Linked DNA regions of Homo sapiens: region 1 is linked to region 2. Evidence: fine-mapped expression QTL. A gene starts in region 2. The other region holds a variant in brackets. All regions are shown on one strand. Distances are between the middles of the regions.

Evidence for each region.
Region 1: its variant is fine-mapped to the expression of AMMECR1L in whole blood (INTERVAL, PIP 0.96).

The regions. Positions count from the first base shown.
Region 1 is chr2:127,856,885-127,868,560 of GRCh38, forward strand. It overlaps AMMECR1L (AMMECR1 like), which reads right to left. Exons shown (of 8, transcript NM_001199140.2): 7 at 10,016-10,112; 8 at 4,746-8,321. The coding sequence ends at 8,210. It overlaps POLR2D (RNA polymerase II subunit D), which reads right to left and starts at 1,271. Exons shown (of 4, transcript NM_004805.4): 1 at 1,144-1,271. The coding sequence starts at 1,216. It also overlaps the pseudogene LOC107985803. RefSeq lists an enhancer at 706-875 and a silencer at 1,106-1,415. The variant GATAAAATAAA/G (reference allele first, on the strand shown) is at 5,981.
Region 2 is chr2:127,879,925-127,891,600 of GRCh38, forward strand. It overlaps AMMECR1L (AMMECR1 like), which reads right to left and starts at 6,032. Exons shown (of 8, transcript NM_001199140.2): 1 at 5,886-6,032; 2 at 4,279-4,388. It overlaps LOC107985944 (a long non-coding RNA gene), which reads left to right and starts at 7,194. Exons shown (of 2, transcript XR_001739707.2): 1 at 7,194-9,444. It also overlaps the pseudogene LOC107985803. RefSeq lists enhancers at 5,903-6,498, 6,283-6,362, 6,373-6,632 and silencers at 5,923-5,972, 5,983-6,152, 6,863-6,912.

The DNA of each region.
Region 1 (11,676 bases), 23 kb before region 2:
AATTAGCCGGGTGTGGTGGTGGGCACCTGTAATCCCAGCTACTCGGGAGGCTGAGGCAGGATAATCACTTGAGCCCAGGAGACGGAGGTTGCAGTGAGCCGAGTTCGTACCACTGCACCCCAGCCTGGGCAACAGAGTGAGACTCTGTCTCTAAATAAGTAAATGAATGAATGAATAAAAGAATAAGATAGGTCAGGTGCCGTGATTAACTTAAGCCCAGGAGTTTGAGACCAGCCTGGGCGACATAGTGAGACCCTGTCTTTACGAAAAAAATTTTTTTAATGGGCCAGGTATGGGGGCGTGCATCTGTGGTCTCAGCTACTTGGGAGGCTGAGGTGGGAGGATAGCTTGAGCGGTTGAGAGGTTGAGGTTGCAGTGGGCTCTGATCATGCCACTATACTCCAGCCTCAACAAGAGGGCGAGACCCTATCTCAATCAATAAATCAATAAATCAATAAAGTGTAAGACAGCTGTATACATTTTCAAGTTTTTGAGCTGAAGACCTCATCCCTAGGAATACCCTCCCCAACCACTTAAAGTGCGTGCGTGAGAAAACTCAAGGCTGCCAAAATAATTTGTTCCAGCCAACAGCTGAAGATAGGACTCTGTCTCTCTGCCTCTGTGGGAGGGTAGGGGCCTAACTTCGACAGGTGCGCCAGTCAACAAACCAAGCTGCGTTCACACGGACCAATCCTCCTCTTCCCGCTTTTTTACATTTCTCACTTCCCCGACTCCCCCGAGCTCCCGCTCACCACATCCTTATTCCCTAATTCTCCGTTAAAACGCCCAGAGGTTCTGTACTAATCGAAGTTGAGTTCGGTTCACGCTGGGCTCTTTTCCCTAGTGCAACAGTATATTACTGTTTAAAAATCTGTCCTTACCACCTGAGTGTCCGGCTTTGTTTATCTTTGACACAGGTCCCCGGAACTTCGCAGTTTATCACATAAAATAACCCAGTTGCCCAGGCGGTCCCTCCCAAGGCCATGGTCCCTCCCAAGGCCATGTTCCCTCCCCAGCCCCACGCCGCGCTGGGGCTTGCCCAAGCCGCCGCTGAGGCAGGGCCTTGGGCGAAGCGCGCATAACGCCAGGCCTGCGGCGACCACGCGAAGTGGCGCGGGGGAGTCTGGCAGCCCCGAGCCCAACCTTTAGGAAAGATGAGCTGTGAGGCGTCCTCCTCTACGTCGCCAGCCCGCGGATCGCTGCCACCCGCCGCCATCGCCGCGCCGCGCCGCGCGCCACCACCAGCGCCGCCGGAAGCAGAAGCGCGGAGCAACGGCCGCGGAAGGGGCGTGGTCTCGGGAGGGGCCCCGAGGGGTGGGCGGGGCCGGGAGTGCGAGCCGGACGGGGCGCAGCGAGGGGACCGGTTGGTGAGGTCCTGGAGGCTCCCCGCCACCGAGGGGCGCCCTGCACTCCCTCTCTTCTCCCATGCTCCTCGCCGCGCAGACGTCCTGGGGCAGGTCCCTACGCCTTTCTGGACGGAGGAGGTCAGATGAGATGCAGGAACGCCTGCTGATGGAGAGCAGGGCAGCCGGCTCCGAAAGTACCGGGTCCAATTTCCTTCACCGACTTAAACTTCTAAAATTTTATTGATTTGTGGTGGATTATCTGATACTTCTGAGTACGCGGACAATGATATTCAGAGGCTTTTACCACACGTCTGTTGGAACATTTGGGTGATGCGTAGAAAATTAAGCAAATGACGGCCGGGCGCAGTGGCTCACGCCTGTAATCCCAGCACTTTGGGAGGCCGAGGCGAGGGGATCACCTGAGGTCAGGAGTTTGAAACCAGCCTGGGCAACATAGTGAAACCCTATCTCTACTAAAAATACAAAAATTAGCCGGGCATGGTGGTGGGCGCTTGTGATCCCAGCTACTGGGGAGGCTGAGGCAGGAGAATCGCTTGAACCCGGGAGGCGGAAGTTGCAGGGAGCTGAGATCGCGCCACTGCACACCAGCCTGGACGACAGAGTAAGACTCCGTCTCAAAAAATATATTAAAAAAAAAAAAAAAGCAAATAAAAAATGATGCTGTTTTCGACACTGGAGAAAACAAAAGGTTGTACAATAAGGTAAATAATCATAGCTTATTAGTCAACAATATCTTAGCTCATTAGTCAACAATGTTTAGATGGTCATATTGTAAACTCTGTTGATTTAATAAAAAATGAATTGTGCCGGGCACGGTGGCTCACGCCTGTAATCCCAGCACTTTGGGAGGCCGAGGCTGGAGGATCGCTTTAGCTCCGGAGTTGAAGACCAGCCTAGACAACATAGTGAGACCTCGTCTCTAAAAAATACAAAAATTAGCCGGGCGTTGTGGCGCGTGCCTGTAGTCACAGGGATCGGGGAGGCCGAGGCGGGTGGATCGCTTGAGGGATGCAGTGAACTATGATTGCCTCACTGCACTCCAGCCTGGGCAACAGAGACCCTGCCAAAAAAAAAAAAAAGGCAAAGTCCAGGCGCGGGGGCTCACGCCTGTAATCCCAGTACTTTGGGAGGCCGGTGGGGGTGGGGGGGGCAGATCACCTGAGGTCAGGAGTTCGAAAGCAGCCTGGCCAACATGGTGAAATCACGTCTCTACAGAAAAAAAAAAAAAAAAAAAAAGCCGGGGCGTGGTGGCGGGCGCCTTTAATCCCAGCTACTCGGGAGGCTGAGGCGGAGGTTGCAGTGAGCCGAGATCGCGCCACTGCATTCCAGCCTGGGCGACAGCGACAGAGTGAGACTCTGTCTCAAATAATAATTTTTAAAAAGACTTAAAAAATTAAAAAGTAAAAATTTTAAAACTAAAGAAAAAGAAAACCTTTAGAAGGCAGTCCTGGGAATCCTGTCTGGCCTGTGCAGCCTGATCTCCTGCGAGGGCTCGTCCACAGCGTCTTGCTGTCTTGCAGTGCCGGCAATGTGGTCTCCCACCACCTGAGAAGTTCCCTCCTCCAGGGCATGCTCTTTGCTTCAGCACTGCTTCTCTAAGGAACCTGCCCAGACCTGAAGGGCTGGCCACGCCCCCTTTCACGTGCTCAGAGAAGCTGAAGGTTCCGGAGGGTTTGATGCTTGCCGGTGTTCCCTTGTACACCCAGCACTGAGTGACAGGCCAGATAACCACAGCTGCCCAGCCACTGCACCATGTGCTGGGGTCTGGGCAAAACATTTACTATTTTTACTTTTTACCTATGACTTCTCTAAGGTCAGGTTACTTTGGAGATTCACAGTCCTGTCACAAAGTAGGAAATGCCTTATAAATGGCAGGACCAAGATTTGCGCTTAGGCCTGTGGGACTGCCAGCCAGAAAAGATTCTAGCTGTCACCCGCCCTGGGTTATTTCTTTGGTTGGGAGCCACGATGTGATCACAGAATAGCCATACTGGGGGAGGGGGTCTGATTGGCAGCAGGAACTTGAGGGACTGATGGTGAACTGGAGACCTCTCTTTTCTGTTTTCCAATAGTTTCGAAATTGCAGTCCTCCCCCCACCAATTTTCCAGGGCATACAGAATCTGTGTGAGTAGAAATAATGCATAAGCGGCAGGAAGAGGCCCTTGAATCCTTGTCTGAGCTTGATTTTAATGAGGAAAACAGACACAGAAGGGACAGGACTTGCATTACATTCCTCAGGCTGCTACTCTGATTCTTGTACAGCATTGGTTCAGTCAAGCCATTCAACCAGCCCACTTAGTATTTCAGTCAGATTATTCAAGCCAAGGTTACAGACCTAGATTGATCTAAAAGCAGCTGTAGAGCACCTCCCCCACCCCCACTCCCACAATTAGCACCACTGACCTCTGATCAGATGGTTTATTTCACACTCCAGAAGTCAACAGTGATGGCTAAAATTACAAATGTTGTTTTATCACCAATCACACTCTCCCCCAAAATCAGTCATAGGCAACTCTACGCTGTTTAATTACAGGTACTATGGAATGTAATCTCTAGAACATTAATTTCTCTTGAAGAAACGAATTCCTCTTCACACACATCAGTTATTAACAAAGCCTGTAAACGTCTAACCAGCTGCTGGTAGTCAGTTTTCAAAATTACCTAACCCTGATAGCACGTTTTTATCTGTAGCCATGTGTTTTTGAGCTTTGCTAAGCGCTAAGGGCCTCAGAATTGAGTACCTTAAAAAAAAATTCTACCTCCCTGCAAATAGTGTGTCAACTGCTGATCTTTGGGTGGGTTGGGTTAGTGGGCTGGAGCCAGGGAGGGACAAGCAGACCCCAGGGTGCTGCCCAGATGGAATACTGAATTATTTTTGCCAAGTTAAAAAAAAAAAAAAGCGTAAACTGAAGATGTCCTTTCCTCCAAACACATCTCATCTTTTCTGGGCCATCCAAAAACAAAACTTCACTGGTTAGGTCAGACTGCACCAGTATGTCCCAGGGTCTTTGCTTGAATTAATTAACATCACCAAATTATATTAAATTTTAGTGTTTTTTTCCTCTCCAAGAGATTTTGGCTTTTTTTGGTAAGGTCAGTCTCATTTGAAAATCTAACAAAAACAACGAACCTGTCTGGAAAAACCCAAATCTTAAAGGGCTAATGAATGATTGCTCATGGAACTTGGCTCTAAAACACCAGTGACATTGCCACCAACCATAAAAATATACACAAGGGTGGGGTCACGAGCACCACACAAAATATCCAAGCTGACCGAATACTATCTTGTTGCCTGTCTTCAAAAATAAAACAACTGTTATCACCATTCCATATAAATCAAGTCACATGGTTAAAAAAGAAAAAGCAGAACAAAACGATTTTTATCCATTATGATTTATTCTCTACAATACTTCGTTAAAGTGTTCAATGATTTGCACTCAGAAGTTATATAGCCAAGAGGCAACCAAGTGTAATACAAAGAATTGGTCTGAAGTCTTTGCACTGAAGGCCATATAGTCTCTTGCTTCAGGGAAGTAAGAACGAAATGAACAAAAAGAACACATAGCTCCCTAGGCTCCAGAATCTCAATAGAAAATAACGTCAACAGTTAGTGAAATTGTAGATGTCAACACATCATGGAAAACAGATCTTGTGCAAAATATTAACACCCAGGACTTCTTTTGTATAGATGATTTTTATTATAAACAATAAAATATATGTAATGTCTCAACTACAAACCTTTCATGTTGAAAGGGTCTCTAACATGAGTTGTTTTATTATTATGAAGCAAAAAAGTTTTAAGAATCTCACAGTGGAAATAATCCAACACCGACAGACTCTAGTGATCAAAGACATTCTCTTTTAATGTAAAACAAGGACAATTCATAATTACAGAGAGAATGTCCTAGCTGTGGGTATTATGAGACAAGCCAACTTTCCAGACCAAAAGGCACTCACAGCTAGGGATGAAACGAACTCCGAACCAAGCCAGAGAAATTGGGCTGGTCCTTGAAAACAGTGGTTACCTACTGTCCAGCTCGAGCAGCCCAAGGACAAAGGAAACACTCAGCAGAAAACATTCCCTTTTCTTTAAACCTACCACGCACACCGCAGGTACTGGCCGCCCTCATCACTGCTTTGGTCAAGCGTGCAGAGAAGGCAGTTCAGTTCCAGTTCGGAGCTATCCTCTCCCTATGCAAAGCTGCCACATGGATGATCCAGACTTGGTATTTTTCCTGAGAGCCACCTGCTACACACTTTCATGAGGCGACCGTGACCGTACACTTCTAGACCGCTTCCTGACTAGGCCCCGTTCAGGACGGATACTGACAATGCCCATTCCTCACGGGGCCAAATGGTTTCCCTTGGTCGACTCCTGAGTCCCCTGACAAAGCAAGAGGAACCCAAGCATTTCCATTGCTGGACTTGTGTGGGAGCATGAGGGAATGTGCAGGGAGTAAGGCTTCTTCACTCCAAAAACCACTGAGCCCACTTCAGTGTGGTGCTGGGCCTAACCAGCCCAATTCTTGTGCACTGATTTTTTTTTCCCCATTTCTCGGGTTTTAAAATTTTCTATTCATTTTCTTAAATGGCAGGTATCGTACCCCCCCTC[GATAAAATAAA/G]ATAAAATAAAATAAAATAATAAAATAAAATAACATACCATACATTGGAGAAGACAAATAGGGCAACATTTCTACAAGAAAAAATCGGCTTGAGGAGCATGGCACTGTAAATGCTTGCATGACCAGTCTCACTGAGCGTGCTCAGGGGTGAAGGTTTAGCACCAATTTTTTTGCTTTTTTTAATCTTTAGAAATTAAACACAACTCTTAACATAGAACACTTGAACAGTAATGAGTGTAGCCCTATGTATCAATACTGTTGTACAAATTGGAGGTGGGTGGCTTAGTCCAGAGCTGACCACCCTGACATCGATCCATGGCACCTAAGAGTAACCGTTGCCACGTTTTTAACAAGACATTTATTCTCAGCAGCAGGAAATCACGAAACGACCCCTCCATCTTCATTTACATTGCCAAGGGAAACGTAGCAGGCTGCAGGAACCCAGCACAGCAGTGAAGGGCCGCAGCCTAGGCACCGTCACCCACGTTTCCCTCGCACGTCCCAGGTCCTCTCGAGCAGCACAGGACGGTGTGGAGCAAACCCACTCACCCTTGCCCATCCCTTCCCACAAACTTGCCAGCGATGCCTAGAACAGCACAGGTGTCCTTTCTCAGATTGTGCCCCCACTCCCCTTCCCCATTCCTGACAGAAGAAAATGCAAAAGATCTTCTGAATATTTGCCCATTTCGGAAAGCCACACCATCACCACATAAACTTCAAAAAATAAATTAAATAAAAACATGTTCACTGGGTTGACACCCAATCCACTTCATGAGTTCTCTAAGCATGTTGTTGAAAACCAGTGTCACATCCTTAGGATCCTTCTTCCAACTGGCCACTCTCCCTGTGAATCATTTTAGCAGTGCCTTTGTAACAATATTTTCAAAGCATCTTCCAAGTCCCCTAGTTCTATGAACTTTGCCACCAAATGAGTGAAGAATAGGCAAGGAGAGAGGAAAAAATTGCTGACAGCGATTTGGAAATCAGCAACAATGGGAAAGGGAAATATGTCACATGAAAGTTTGAAAGACCTAGAATAAAATGAGCTATTTGGAAATTTGCCCTGGTGGGGTGAAGATTCCCAGCATGTCAGGCAAGATAAAGGTCCACCTTGTGTAATTACACAACTGTTTCCTAATGTCCTGTAAAGGACAGAAACACCAACAGTCTTCCCACCTCTACAGGCAAACTAGAAAAAGGAGCTCCCCTGCTTACAGGCCCCTCAGGATGTCACCTGAAAAGAAAACCAGCTTACAGACCCTGGATTCTCTCCTATGATGTGTCCTCCTAAAGCCCAACTCAATCGCTTGTTTGCACATCTACGCTTCTGAGAACTTAGGTCCAGCTATAGGCACTGCTACCAGCAGAGGAGTGAGGTAGCCAGGCGGTGCAGAAGAGGTCTCTCCTCTCACACCTGCGTGCAGTGATGACATCAGGACCTCCTGTGGGCATCTCCATTCCATTCCATTCCTCAGCAGGCTACATGACGGAGCTCTGTTCAGTAATCAGGAGACTCAATGCAGGAAGAGTGCCAGAAAATCCAACTGAGAGTGGGATGAGGATGAAAATCTTCACGGCCTACTGAGCAATGAGATCTGCAACGCCACCCAAAGGGCTTCCGATCTTGATGTGGGTCTCTGTCCAGGAGCCTCAAAGGACTCGTGGTGCCCACGTCCAACCCTAACGTGGCGTCCGCTTATGAAGCATGGAGGTTGTAATCAACTCTTGGTACGCAATAAACTGGAAGTTTAAAAAAAGGAATTTAAAACAACCTAAAAATGTTTCTTGGTCTCCGTTGCCCAGACTGCCAGGGGAATACACCTACTTCATCTGGGGAGGCTGCAGGGGTGTGTGTGGGTTCAACCTTCAGGGATCATCAATTTCAGCTTCCAGCGTGTGGCCAATACCCCATGTGGCAAATACCAGACAAGGGTCTTCTGAACCCACAGTAATTCCCACTAGTCATGGAGGAGCCCCAATCCAACGGAACCCCATATTGAGGAAAGGCTGAGATAAGGCTTGGGCCCCTCAAGTTCTGTTTCGTTCAAGGTAACCCTACCCTCCCTCAGTCAGCGGGAGGCAGACTTGGCAACGGAAGCTAGCATCATAAAATGGTGCAGTAATAGAAGTAACTGGACCAGGAAGAGGAGGCATCTGCTCCAATGATGTCATAGCCATTGGTGGCCACGGGGGGGTGGGACTGGTCATGCAGCCGTGTGTCAGGAGTAATGATTGTAGAGGGGCGGGGCATGAAGAGTGCCGTTCTGGAAACAGTGCTGTCGGGAAGCAATATACTCTGCGTAACTGATTGTCACCTTCTCACTTCGGTACCTGTATGAGGAAACAGGAAAGGGTATTAGGAACCCCAAACGCTTCATTTTGTAAAGTCACTCAGCAGAGAAAAACCAAAAGCTTATTCCACATTTTGAAAGAATAAAATGGAAGACCAAGAGCAATCTTACTTACAGAAAATGAAAGACAGCACAAGAAAACAATGTTGTTATTACAAATGAACAAGATGAAAAAGCACAATCACAATTCCCCCGAGAATGTGTTTCAGCACATCCCACCTTGAAACACTACACGTGCTTATCATCAGGCTGCTCGTAAGCAATCCGCTACTGGGGTCTGGATGAAGAATTTCAAGGTCAAATTACTCGGGTGGCAGATTGGAAGATGGCTGCACCAAAACCCAGTGCAAACTGCACATCTACTTCCAGAGTAAATGTGATACATTTGACAGAAATGCAACCTCAATTCGCGTAAGAGCAACAAACAAGTTATTATAACTAAAAGGGACACAGATACCTAATTCTGGGTCAAAGTCTGCTGAAGCAGGTTAAAGGATCCTTGGGGCTATATAGGTCTCACTCCCCAGATGAATATGCCATATCACAGGGTCGTCAGAACAGAATTCATAGCACTTTGGCTGTGCTCTGGAAAGAGCCATGAGTCAGGATGCGAAGCATGGGGTGTTACAAACCTATGGAGCCTACTACAGACCACAGGAGCTGGGTGTGACAATCCTTACCCAGAGCCATCTCTTTCCCACTGTAATCACTCCTCCACTGCAAGGTGATTATTCCTGAATTTTGACAGGGAAATGGCTGTTCAAATAAATTATAATAATAATAATAATGCTTTGTATTTGAAGAGTTTTTTGTTGTTTTTTAAAAATTTTTGGAATCCAAAGCATTTAAAAAACACTGGGTCATCTTCCAAACAGACCTGTGAGATTAGTATATGATTATTCAGCATTTTACAGATGAGGGGCCCAAAAGAGGCCCACAAAAGCCCATAGAAGCTAAACCTCTCAGTGTTTCTGATTTCAATAGGGATGAGAAGAGAACTAACATCTCCTGATCACCTACAATGTTGACTGGCCACAGGCTAGAAATTTTCCATACATTACCTTAGCACAGCCTCAAACAACTCTAAGGTATTATCATTCACATCTTACAGACAGGGAACAGGCTCAGAGAGGCAGAATAACTGGCTCAGGTCACACAGCTAGTACATGTTGAGCTGGGATTCCAACTCCAAGTCCATCTGCATTCTACTACACTAGGCAGCCTCCTCCTAGAAGTATTCCCCACAAATGAGAGGCATTTCCTTTTAACTTTTTGTAAAAGCATTTTCTTACTCTCCTGTATCTCCTGCCGTCTGACTACATGTGCAGTCAGAAAGCAGCACCTCAACTGACTCTGGACTTCCAGAGAGCCTTGTCTCCTAATCTCAGTCTCCCCCTCAGCCTCCCAACCACGTGGGTCTGGCAAAGCCATCCACAGCCTGCAGGGCAGACCTGCCCTGCTCCAACTGTGCCCCCAGCTCAGCTATGGAGACACACAGGATGCTGGGAGAGTCTCTGCCTTTGCTGCCACTGCTTCCTCAAAATGTGAACTTCACCCACACTTCTTTGATTTAGGGACATTCACAGAGAACACTTCTTCTCCATCCCATCAAAATTATCCTCCATTCAACCCCAACTAAATTGAAATGATAAGGAAAACAAGACAATGGCTTACCTGGTGAGTTTGATCGTTTTTCTGAATTCACTGGTAATTGGAGCTTTAAAGCCACCTTTCCTGAGCAAGGAGTCTATTGTCTGGATCTGATCCCAGTCTGGGGAGGAGAAAGGCCACACTGAGGTCAATGCACATGCAAGAGTAAGGCATGCTCTCACATGGCCCGTGCAAGAAGAGAAATGGGACTCGAGAAGCAGCCGAGTCTGCTAAGGCAGAGGAAGCCCTGGGCACTGACCCCCACGTACCTGGCGCCCAGTCTGTCTGCCAGTCCCGTGGAGACTCTGAGACATGAGATGATAGCCCGACACATGCCATAATGGCTGTCCCCAGGCTCCCTGCTCCTGCGTCCTTCCTGTCAGATGTTACCCCAGTATAATTATCTAGGAACAAACATGGTTCCAACTTAGACCAGCCTATTGGCCTAGTGCTGGTACCCAAGGCTGCTCTGTGGGAAGAGAGGAATTTAAATTCTGCAACTTATATTCCTTTGTGTGATCTTCCTTCAATCTGATGATTTTTGGAGTCCTGTTTTCTATGGTAAAAAATTGACAGTGAGAAAGAAGCTGGCTGGGTGTGGTGGCTCACACCTGTAATCCCAGCACTTTGGGAGGCTGAGGCAGGAGGATCACTTGAGCCCATGAGTTCAAGGACAGCCTAGGCAATATGGTTAAACCTCATCCCTACTAAGAACGCAAAAATTAAGTGAGCGTGTGGGATGCGCCTGTAGTCCCAGCTACTCAGGAGGCTGAGGTGGGAGAATCATCTGAGCCCAGGAGGTCAAGACTGCAGTGAGCCAGGATCACACCACCGCACTCCAGCCTGGGTGACAGGAGGAGACCCTGTCTTAAGGAAGAAATAAAAAGGGAAAGACAGGAAGAGGAAGAGGAAGAGGAAGGAAAGGAAGGAAGGAAGGAAGGAGCTGTTCCTTCAGGAAGGGCAGACAAGTTGCTCATGCATATACTATTGTTATTCTTGCACATTCTTTTTTTTGAGACAGGTTCTCACTCCTGTCACCCAGGCTGAAGCGCAGTGGCGCAATATTGGCTCACTGCAACCTCCACCTCCCAGGCTCATGTGATCCTCCCACCTCAGCCACCCAACTAGCTGTTGACTGTCAGGTGTGTGCCACCACACCCAGCTGAATTTGTATTTTTTGTAGAGACGAGGTTTCGCCACCAGACTAGTCTTGAACTCCTGGGCTCCAGTATCCACCTACCTTGCCCTCCCAAAGTGCTGGGATCACAGATGTGAGCAAACGTGCCCAGCCTCATTCTTAACAGATAAAACCAACTTCATCAAATTGAAAAACCAAAGAAAATCCCCTAAATTACTATGCTAGGTGCTCCGAAGTTTTTATTTTTCCAACCAACTTTCAAATGGCAAAAGTAATTTAATTATTTACTTAAGTTATTATTTACACCTCCCCATTACAAAACATGGTATGCCTCCTTGTACAGAGTGTGTTAGGTTTATGACCTAAAAGAGGTGGCTAAAAGGTTTGCTATTATGCCACATATACACTGCTCTTGAAAAAGTTTAAGCACAAGCAAAATAAAAACCAACCAGGCAATCGTTTTCCATGTTTGCTCATGATATACACTTCACCGGGTATTTTTTCTCTATTCTAGGCTCATACCCAACAAATACTGTGTTTCACATAT
Region 2 (11,676 bases):
GCCAAACTTCCCTGCCAAACTTTATAAAAACTACCAAGGATGGTACTGTGAGCATAGTACAAATTACTGTGAAGCTGGTTCATTTGAAATAAGAGAAGCCAGGCGCAGGAGCTCACGCCTGTAATCCCTACACTTAGAGAGGCAGAGGCAGGCGGATAGCTTGAGCCCTGGAGTTTGAGACCTGCCTGGGCAACACAGTAAGATCCCATTCTCCACAAAAACGGAAGGAAAAAGACAAAGTTTGAAATCAGGTGTAAAAACCCTTGCTTTATGAAAGTATATATAACCAAGACCCTTCCAGGCCTTCAGCTGGTTACTTGCACAAAGCTCAGCTCAAGGGCCATGGTGAGAGTCCCTTTTCTTCCTGTTCATCCATTAGGACCACCAATAAGAATAAGCTAGTTAAAACTAGGTTTCCACCAGATGGAAACAATACTCATACCTCAACAAAAAGCTGGCAGAAATCACAGCAACCACTGTTTTACCTCTTAAGACCTCCTAACCTTGCAGGTGTCAAATAAAGTGTGCCCTTAGTGCTTAAAGTCACCAGCCTTCCTCAGTGATGCTGCGGCGTCCTCATCTGCCCTGTGCTTGCAGGACGTTCTCTCTTCTCCACCTGATGTACACACTCAAGGGGGCCCTGAACTTCATTAGGGCCTGCAACAAGGGCCACTCAGTGACTCTTCCTCCCTCTCTGTGGGGACGCTGAGCACTGCCCTGCTATTTGGAGCAGCTTACAACTTAAAAATTTCAGCCAGCACTGAACTCGGCATCACCCTGAGCCTGAGAGGCCGCAGGGCATCTGTTTCATCTTTCACTGCACCTAACATGGTGCCCTACATACAGTATACACACACACACACACACACACACACTCCTGATTGTCACCAACAATCTTATCTACACATCTAATAATTTAAGTTTGCCTGCTGACAGTGGAGTATCGCAGAACCTGAGGATGACTGAATTACAAGCACCTATTCTTATCAACAATCTCCATTCTATTCAGCCCAAACCAAGGGATAGTTTAATAATTATTCATAGCAAAATGGATAGCCACTGTGGATAATTCATTTTAAAAATTAGGTCAACTATCACCTAAATTCACTTCTTGGTCCAATGTATGCTGGTAGCTGTCATCCTTGCTAAAACATACCAGTAGCTGTCAGTTCTGAACTGGCTTCAGGTGCCACTTCGAGGTGGCTCAAGGCTTTCTTTTGATAGGTCAGACAATCTAAACTGCAGTTGGGAAGAATCATTTTTTCCTTTTTCAATGATAGAGCACTTTCAGAACTACCCACTGGAGAATTTATTTGCCTGGGTGGCCATTTGTGGTTTCAGGGATTAATACAAACTATTTCTCATACACTGCTAGTATTTACAAACCAGGTATTGAGACTGCTATTGACACAAAGATGTGATGATGCCCCCACTCATGTGTCTGGCTGGGCAAAAGGACCTTCCTCTCTCACTGCAGGTCCCTTCCAAGGCTACTAAGTCCACTGAAAAAAATAACTCCCATTTTCCCAGAGCAGCTCCCCTCTTCAGGGGACAGAACCTAGATTTTGAGGTTACAATCTCAGCTCAGATCCCAAGTCTGACTTGCCACGTACCAGCTACGCAACTCAGGCAAGTTTTCACATCTCTGTGGACTTGGGCTCCTGCTACCACAGAGGTTTATTTGTGAGCTGTGAAAGACACGAAAAGCACCTGGCAGTTCTGTGGCACATAACTACTATCTATTAAGTGTCTGCTGTTACCAATACTTCCCTACCCCACTGATAAAAGTAGCGTTGGTTATAAAAATAACACAGCTCTGAGTGCTTACAATTTCTAGAGGAATAATGCCCTCCTAATACAATTCCATTAAGAATGACCTTGTAATCTAAAAGATCATATTATTAACATGGGATTATTACTCTCATGACCTTGATGGTTTCCTTCTTTGGAGAGCAATGGCTTCTAATAAATCATCCACTGTTTCTTTTCATTCTGAGATGCCAGAAAACACAGAGAAAAATACTTGGCTGCCTTGAGAGTTGTACAGTTTTATTCCACTAGAGTCCTCATTTAAGCTTACAGACATACACTAAAATAGAGACTAAATTTGCTTAAAATGCTATTATTGTAGACATCTTGATAGATACTGAATACCAATTTTAAAAACTGTTGTCAAAGTAGTTAGGTTTCACACAACCACCAGATTAAAATATCTAGAAAAGCCTAAAGGTGGGGGGAAAAATCTAGATTCACCTTTTGAAGACAAGCCTCAAAACAGCTTATTCGAGGGCACGATCTCATAAAGATTTGGGAGGTGGGAAAAAGGCCAAGAAAAAGGGGGTCTCTGCATTTTCTTCTGTTATCATTTAGCATTTAGATGTTTGCTCAAATCAAGCTTTTCACAGAAGGGAACAAGCTGTTGTTTCCTTTGTGACACAGAGTTGACTTGAAATTCAATTTAATAATTACATTATGGGTACTGAAATGGCACCTGAGCTATAATTCTGTCCTACTTATGGAACTATTCCAGGAAACAGTCAGAAAAACCCACATACATTCTGGTAACCATACCAAATAATCATTTATTTTTGAAACCCCCATCATACACACATCCAAAACATTTGGTGTGTGAAAATTTTCCCCCACAAATCACAGATATACCTATACAATTGTTCCTTTTTGTTTTGGAGACAGGGTCTCCGTCTGCGGTCCAGGCTGGAGTGCAGTGGTACAATCACAGCTCAATGCGGCTTTGAACTTCTGTGCTCAAGAGATCCTCCTGCCTCAGCCTCCCAAGTAGCTGGGACCACCGCCATGCACCACCACACTCGGCCAATTTTTAAAAATTTTTTCCTTTTGTAGAGACAGGGTCTCCTTATGTTACTAAGCTGGTTTTGAACTTCTGGCTTCAAGCAATCCTCCTGCCTTGGCTTCCCAGTTTTGGGATTTACACAGGCATGAGTGACTGTGCCCAGAATTTTTTTTTTTTTTTTTTTTTTAAAGAGATGAAGTCTTGCTATGCTGCCCAGGCTGAAGTGGCTATTTACAGGGCTCAAGCGATCCTCCTGCCTCAGCTTCTCAAGTTGCTGGGGCTACAGATGCACGCCACCATGCCTGGCAACAATTGTTTTTAAGCTTTATAGATTTTTAAAAACATAAAGAACTGCAAATTTCTTTTCTTTTTTTTTTTTTAGACAGAGTCTCGCTCTGTCGTCAGGCTGGAGTACAGTGGCATGATCTCAGCTCACTGCAACCTCCACCTCCCGGGTTCAAGCGATTCTCCTGCCTCAGCCTCCCAAGTAGCTGAGGACTACAGGCACATGCCACCACACCTGGCTAATTTTTGTATTTTCAGTAGAGACGGGGTTTCACCATGTTGGCCAGGATGTCTTGATCTCTTGACCTCGTTATCCACCTGCCTCGGCCTCCCAAAGTGCTGGGATTACAGGCTTGAGCCACTGCGCCTGGCCAGAACTATACATTTTCATTTCAACTTAGCTTAAAGAAAAACATGTACCTAGGAGTCAAAACTCTTTTCACCTCCCCTCTGTTTTCTATGTGACCTGTAGCAAGGTGCCACATTTTTCTGGGCCTCAGTTCTTTCATTTGTAAAATAAAAACATTTATCCCCTGTGTCCCTCAGAGGGGCTGGGAGGCTTCACCAAGAAGTGAAACACTCTGAAAACTCTCTCCTAAGTGTTAGCATACTATCATTAATCAACTCAAGAGGGCACAGCAGTCATAATTTTTCCCCAGAACTTTGTTTCAAGTTTACAGTGAAAAATTTTAATTATCTTCAAATCTGTGATGGGATTTTCAAGAAAATATCTTCACTATTGCAAATTTAGGACAAAATGTTCCAAAAGTCTCTCAGGACTGAAACTATAGAAAAGAGAACCAATAATTGACTTTGATCAGGAACTGCATTAACCTCTGAGTTAATTACCCTAAAACTTAAGACAACCTCTTTGGTTGTATTGAGAAACTCATTTGGGAAGGGTGAGGAGCCAGACCTTACAAACTAGAAATATAAAGGAAAGATCATGCCACGCCACCACCTAGCTCACTCTAATGGGAGTATGAAAAACAAACTTGCCTTTGCATATTTAAATTATTTTAAAAGGGAACAAGCGGAAAAACTTCATCAACATTAGGACCCCCTCATGGAAGTAGAAAAATACAAATGAAAACACACCTACATCCCAAAATCCTAGCACATGCCTAAAATCAAAAACTACAACGATGCTCTACTCTAAATATGCCCAAGATAATACTCACTGAAAGCAGAAAGTTTGTATTGCCAGAGGAACAGCTACAACAGAGGAGGGGAGCTATTTTGTCTCTGGAATGAATTTTCTTCCTTCCGATTCCATTCCTTCTTCCTGTACCTAAGACGGAAATGCAGGTGCAGTGAACAAACACCCAGGTAGTGCAGAGGTAAGATAGATACGGTTTCTGAAAAATCACAACTCGACAGAGCAATTTCGGGGGGGTGGGGGGCACAGCAAATAGCTAGAGAACAGGCTCTCCTTATTTCAAAACCTTGCAAACTCTAAATCTGAGGCAGCCGTGAAGTCCCATGCCCTGAATCATCTCATCCTTAGCGTCATCAGCAAGAAGGGAGGACACTGAGAATCAAAGGTTTTATTTATTGAACTCGAGCATGAGACGCACATTAAAACTTCCCCACCACAGATGCAGAGCAAAAGTTGCTCTCAGGCCAGAAGAGACCATTTAAAAGCTCTCCGCCGGTTTCAGAACACAAATAAATTTCCCAATCCTCTGCAAAGACAGAACTGAAGAATTACTGGACAGCACGCCAGAGGCAGGGACCTGAGGGCAGGCCATCTTGCTATGCCGGGAGGAGACGGTCACTGTTGCTAAGGGTCATCCATCCTTAGTCTCGAAGAAATCTCTTCCTGATCTCTTCACCAACTCTCCCCACTACTAGAGAATTGAGCTACTCCCAAAGATGTAAGTAAACAGGAGACTGTTTACATCTCCTGTGGGTGGGAGAGGCCCCACCCACTCTATCCTAGGAGAGGGCAGTGAAAGAGGATAAGGCCCAGAGGGATAAGGGTGAGGGAGCATGGCAAGGAGAGGAGTTCAGATCAGGACAGGGAATGTAGGAGGGCAAGGAGTGAAGGGCACAACCCACAGCCTGGGAAAGAGAGGCATGAAACCCAGCGTGTCAGGTGGACGGATCATGGAATGGGGGGCCAGCGGAGGTTAAGGAAGGAGGGCCCAAGAGTAGGGGTGCGAAAAAGAGAAGAGGAGGAGGAGAAAGTGCGCGTGTGAAGAGTGTTAAGAAAACGACAGGACAGAGCGGGGAGGGGAAAAGCGGGCCGAGGGACAGGGTGAAAGGTGAGAAACGAGGGTATGAGGAAAGAGGGTCCGGGGCGCTGGGGAGTTGGGGAGACGATGGAGCGACGGGTAGAGCAGCTTGGGCCGAGCCGCGGGGGTGGAATCCAGACGCCGGGCGGGGGAGGGGGCGGCGGGGCGGCGGGACGGTGGGTGGGGGCCACCAGGCGGCGCCGGAGACCACCAAACTTTACAGCGAGCGAGCCTGCTTCCTGGAGGGAGTGCAGACAAGGACCAGGAGCGGGAGCCGAGCCTCGCGGCCCGGGGCACGGCGCCGCCCGCCCCTCCCCGGCAGTGCCTCCCGACCCCCTGCCCTCCGCTGGGACATGGCCTGAGGCCCCGCCCGCCGCCCGGGACTCCTCCCCCCCGCTGCCCCCGGACCCTCGCCCCAGGACCGCGGGGTCTCTTCCCGGCCCCGCCGCCCGCCCCGGCGAGAACAGGCCCGGCGGGCAAGGCGGCGGCGGACCGAGGGAGGCCTGGCCCGGCAGCGGGGAGAAGGGTGCGGCGCAGCCCGAGTTTCCCACCTTTTCTCCTGGCCCAGACGCGGCTGGGGCGGACGGGACCTCTCGCGCTCTGCCTCCTCCTCTTGCTTCATGGAGCCATGCGCCTGGGTGGGGGCTCCCGAGAGAAGCTGGCCTGCGGGCGGGCCGGACGCGCTGCGCGGACGGGGCGGGGCGAAGGAGGCCGGCGGGCGGAGGAGGAAGCGGCGGGGCGGCGGCGGCGGCGGCGGCCGGGAAGAACTAGAGGTATTCCCCGGGCGGCTGGAGGACTGAGTCGAGCCGGGACCCGAGTCCTCCGGTATCCCAGCAGCCACCGGAGGCAGTGAGGTAATGGAGGAAGAATGTAGGGAGTCCTCCAGTGGACCACACTCCTTCTAGCGAGCCGCGGAAACCATAGAGATCAGGGCTCAGCCGGAGGGCCGGCCCACTGCTGTCACGTGGCCTCCATCCGTGCGCTTTATTGGCTGGTGCTGGCTTTACGGGGTTGAATTTTGGACGCTGCCTGCCATTCGTGGGACCGAGTTTCAGGCAGCTGGAATAAAGAGAGACATCGGGGGAAAGCCGCGAGAAGGCCAGCGTCCCTGGCTGGGAGCAGAGCTAGCCGAGTAGGGCGCCCGGCTGTCAAAACTGGCCGGCGCAGTGCACGCTGGGCCGCCCCGGAGCGGTCGCAGAGCCCGTCGGGAGTCGTAGTCCGGGACGGGCCCGCAGCATTGTCCGCGACGCAGCTCGGGATCCGCGTCGGGTTGTCGGCCGGGTTGCTGCCAGGCACCGTCGAGCGTTAGCCACCCAGCATTGAGCTGCCAGCGGCTGTTCTCCCTAAGCACCCTCGCTCACGTCGCCTCGCCTCGCCTCGCCTGACCGGCCGCAGCCTTGGATACCAGCCTTAAATCGAGCCGACTACGGCCCAGCCCCGCCCGCGGCGAAGTGCGCGGGGTTCGGTGCCAGCCGCTCGCCCCTGGCCGGGCCAGCCTCTTGATGCACCGGGGACGGGCGCGCCCATCCGACTCTTCGAGGGGCGGCAGGGCCCCATCTGTGTCTTTCGCTCTCGAGCCCCCAGCTAGAGTTGGCTTCAGCGGAATACCTACTGTGCAGGATTATTCAACAAGCCGATTGATCACATTCTTCAGCTCTAGCAGTGCAAAGGCTTCACTGAAAAAGAACATTACAAATTTTTTTTGAAAGAAATTTGGGGGTAAATTTAATTTTAAATACTGATTTTTGATAACATTTGATCTTATGACAGCATTTGTATTTTTAATTACAGATAGGATTACACTAAAAGTCATTTCTGACCTGCTCCCTTACCCTTATGGCTAAAATAAACTGCTAGGCCCTGAAGCAAAGGCGAGCCATGTTCTAGAGCAATGTCTTTCTTGTATTAAAATACGGCCCCATGCTCACATATAGGCTGTTTTGTGTTTTGCTTTTCTGTTGATGCACAAAGGAATCCTTGATATGTTTGTCCTCAAAGACCAAAGACAAGTATCTAGTAAAAAATGCAAATCATATCTAACAGTGAAGCTTTCCAGCAAAAACCTTCTGCTCTAGAATGCATAATTATGCGAGCATAAGATCTACTACTCTAGACTTTTAGCATAATTACCTATAGGCAGCAAAACCCTAGTCAATTGAGTGTCTGGTGCCTCTTGGACCTGGACTTCTCCAAGAGAATGGGCAAGGAGGACGAAAAGGAAGAGACAGCTATGCTTTGTGAAACAGGAGGTGACTTAAAAAAAAAATTCTATAGCAGTCTTCTTAATTCCTGTTACAGACTTGATACGCTTATCTGCTGTTGAGGACACGGTTGCCAGTTTCTAACCTTCTCTGTCTGCCTGAAAAACTAGAAATTAGATGATCATATGGCCTAGAGCCAGAAGTGCAGGAGGCAGAAAGCCAGGGGCCAGTTTTTTTCTTTTTGTTTCTGAATAAGAAGGCCAAATCCTGACTTAAAATAATCAAAATAAATTTTACGGAGTGACGGTCTTTCCAGCTGAAAACCTTAAAACATGGCATCTGGAAGAAGGCCTTAGTCTATTGCTCCCAGGATGGTACTATATAGTCATTAAATAGCCCACAGATAAGGGAGTTATTGCCCCCTCGTTATTGGGCTGCCAGGAATTAAATGATGGAACTAAGTTTCACTTGAAACATTCCCAAATTAAAACAAAAACAAGCCTTGCTTTGAGCTGTTGAAAAGGCATTTTACTGAGAAGATCCAGATGCTATTGCTGTTCTTAAATGATGTTGAAAGGCAAAGGGTCAGGACTTTCAAAAAGTCACTTTGAGGTCACCTCACATAAGCAAGCAACAGTTTGAACTGATGCAAAAACAAACAATGAAATTATGAACAGGAGGAAGAAACTAAAATGAGGGCAGTATATGCCATAAATATGGAAGAGGCTGTCTCTTATTTATCTTCTCATTTCCTGTACATAATACAGAAACCTGGTATGTAATAGGCATACAATTATTTGTGGCTCAACTGAATAAACGAAGATGGAAACCAGCAAGCAGCGGGCAGATAATATACTTGGGAAAGGAGAACTGCAGAGACGCTGGGTGGTTCAAGGCTTCTGCATGATCCTCAAATGTCACCCCAATCTGCTGTGACATAGCTATACCACTCATCAGAATACCCCAAAACAAATTGTCTGCCTCCCTTATGTACAACTTTTATTATTTCTTATCTCGGTTGGTTAAGAATATGTAGTAATGGCCGGGCGCGGTGGCTCACGCCTGTAATCCCAGCACTTTGGGAGGCCGAGGCAGGAGGATCACCTGAGGTCAGGAGTTCGAGACCAGCCTCAACATGGAGAAACCCCGTCTCTACTAAAAATACAAAATTAGCCGGGCGTGGTGGTGCATACCTGTAATTCCAGCTACTCGGGAGGCTGAGGCAGGAGAATTGCTTGAACCTGGGAGGCAGAGTTTGCGGTGAGCTGAGATCGCGCCATTGCACTCCATCCAGCCTGGGCAACAAGAGCGAAACTCCATCTCAAAAAAAAAAAAAAAAAAAAAAGAATATGTAGTAATGGTTAAGAGTCCACTGTGGAATCAGCCTGCATAGGTCCAAATCCCAGCCCTGACTGAATACCTGTGAACAAGTTATATCAGTGACTCAGGCTTATTATCTGTAAAATGGGGATTATAGCATTCCTGCCTCATAGGGATGTTATGAGATTTAAATACCAATAAGTCTGTACATTATAAACCTTATCAGATTGGTGTGGTGAAAATGCTCAGTAACTGAGCCTCGTGAGCATTAGAATGTTGAGATCAGCATGAAGTTAGCCTGTATACTGGGCATACACATTCTTCTGGATTTGCTCCTTTTGTGAGCAATCAATGATGAGCTAAAGGCATTTGCTAACTAGTAGGAATGAAATAAGGTTTCAGACAGGATCTTGGTGGGTGATGTAGATTTTATCTGTCCCATTTGTCCCATTTCTCAACTGGAAGTGAGTCTGGCCTTGGTCTGCATCTGTGCTCTCCCCTTCACAAAAGGCAGGCCCAGAGAGACTCCAGAGATGGCCCCTGTCTCCTGTGTGTCCTCCGCCGCTGTGTCCACTTGGGCACGTCAAAGGTATGATCGGTACTTATCTGATGAAAACAAATCTTTGTATATACAGTTGTCTACCTGGGTTGAATATTTCAGAGGTATAAAGTAGTTTAAATAAATAAGCCCTCTAGTGTTTTGTTTGTTAAGCCACATTACTCAGAAGGTTTTCTTTCTTTTTTTTTTTTTTCTGAGACAGGGTTTTGCTTTGTTGCCCAGGCTGGAGTGTGGCTGCAGTGCAGTGGCAGCACGACCATAGCTCACTGCACCCTTTACCTCCTTGGCTCAAGCAGTCCTCCTGTCTCAGCCTCCCAAATAGCTGAGATCACAGGTACGCACGACCACACCCAGCTAATTTTTGTAGAAAATGGAGTCTCCTTATGTTGCCCAGACTGGTCTCCAAACTCCTGGGCTCAAGCAGTCCTCCCACCTTGGCTTCCCAAAGTGTTGGGATTGCAGGCATTAGCCACTGCGCCCAGCCTGAGAAGATGTGTTTTAAACTTTGTATGTCACTTGGGTGTAGAATTTAACATTTAAAAAGTTCTAAACTTTTGGTACTAGCAGCCGGGCGCAGTGGCTCATGCCTGTAATCCCAGCACTTTGGGAGGCCGAAGCGGGCGGATCACAAGGTCAGGAGATTGAGACCATCCTGGCTAACACAGTGAAACCCCGTCTCTACCAAAAATACAAAAAATTAGCCAGGCATGGTGGCGGTTGCCTGTAGTCCCAGCTACTCGGGAGGCCGAGGCAGGAGAATGGCGTGAACCCAGGAGGTGGAGCTTGCAGTGAGCCAAGATCACGCCACTGCACCCCAGCCTGGGCAACAGAGCCAGACTCTGTCTCAAAAAAAAAAAAAAAAAAAAAAACTAGTACTACCAATGAAATAAATGCAACAGAGTTGGAGAGCTCAAGTCACGTATTCATTTATTCTACAAATACTCTCTAAATGGCTACTCTGTAACCAAGCATTTTATATTGCTTTTTTATTGAGAGAGGACATACATGTTTAGAATTCACACAGCTCAAGTATACAGCTTGACCAATTCTTACATTAGTGTCCATCCATGTAACCATCATCCAATTTAAGATGTGGAATATTTCTAGCAGCTCAGAAGGTTCTCTTGTGCCTTCTCCCCGTTCCTAATCCCCTCCAAAAGATACCCATTATTTTGACTTCTATCACTGTGGGATAGTTTTGCCTGCTCTTGAATTCACGGACATTCAAATCGACTCATCCAGTACATACTCCTTTGGGTCTGGTCTGTTTCGTTCAACATTATGTCCAGGAAATTCATCCCTTTGCTTATGTGCAACTATAGTTCATTCTTTTTCTTTGATGCACAGAATACTATGCCATTCAATACACATTGAACAATATGCCACAATTTGTTTGTCCGGCATTATTTTTAAAGCAATCTTGTTCTCTTCCCTGAATCTAGAGATTTAAGCTTTTTACAAGATCTCCTGTTGTTTTACAACCTCAGTGAGGGGATTGAGATGGAAGGTAGGAAAAATATGGTTCCTTCATGCACACTAAATGTAGCTCACTCTCAGATTTTCATGATTAAAGATGTTGGGCCAAGGCTGGGCGCGGTGGCTCACGCCTGTAATCCTAGCACTTTGGGAGGTCGAGACGGGTATATCACCTGAGGTCAGGAGTCAAGACCAGCCTGGCCAACATGGCAAAATGCCATCTCTACTAAAAATACAAAAATTAGCCAGGCATGGTGGCCCATGCCTGTAATCCCAGCTGCTTGGGAGGCTGAGGCAAGAGAATCGCTTGAACCCAGGGGGCCAAGGTTGCGGTGAGCCAAGATTGCGCCCCTTCACTCCAGCCTGGGCGAGAGAGCGAAATTCCGTCTCAAAAAAAAAAAAAAAAAGATGTTGAGCCTAGCATGGTGGCTCATGCCTGTAATCCCAGCACTTTGGGAGGTTGAGGCGGGAGGATTGCTTGAGGCCAGGAGCTTGAGACTAGCCTGGACAACATAGTGAGACACTGTCTCTATAAAAATAAGTAAATAAATAAAGATACTTGTATCTACCAGGGTCCAGTCTACAAGGAGTTATTTCAGAGATAGCAATGCACTTTGTCTAGCCTCAGGGCTATGCTACATACCCTTCTGTCCACCATAATCTTACCTGCAGAGACTTTAAGCCTCCTGACATCCCACAGAATATCACATTGATTCATTACATTGGTGCCATGTTGTTGAATGGACCCAATGAGCAGGAAGTGGTAAGTACCTTAGATTCATCTGA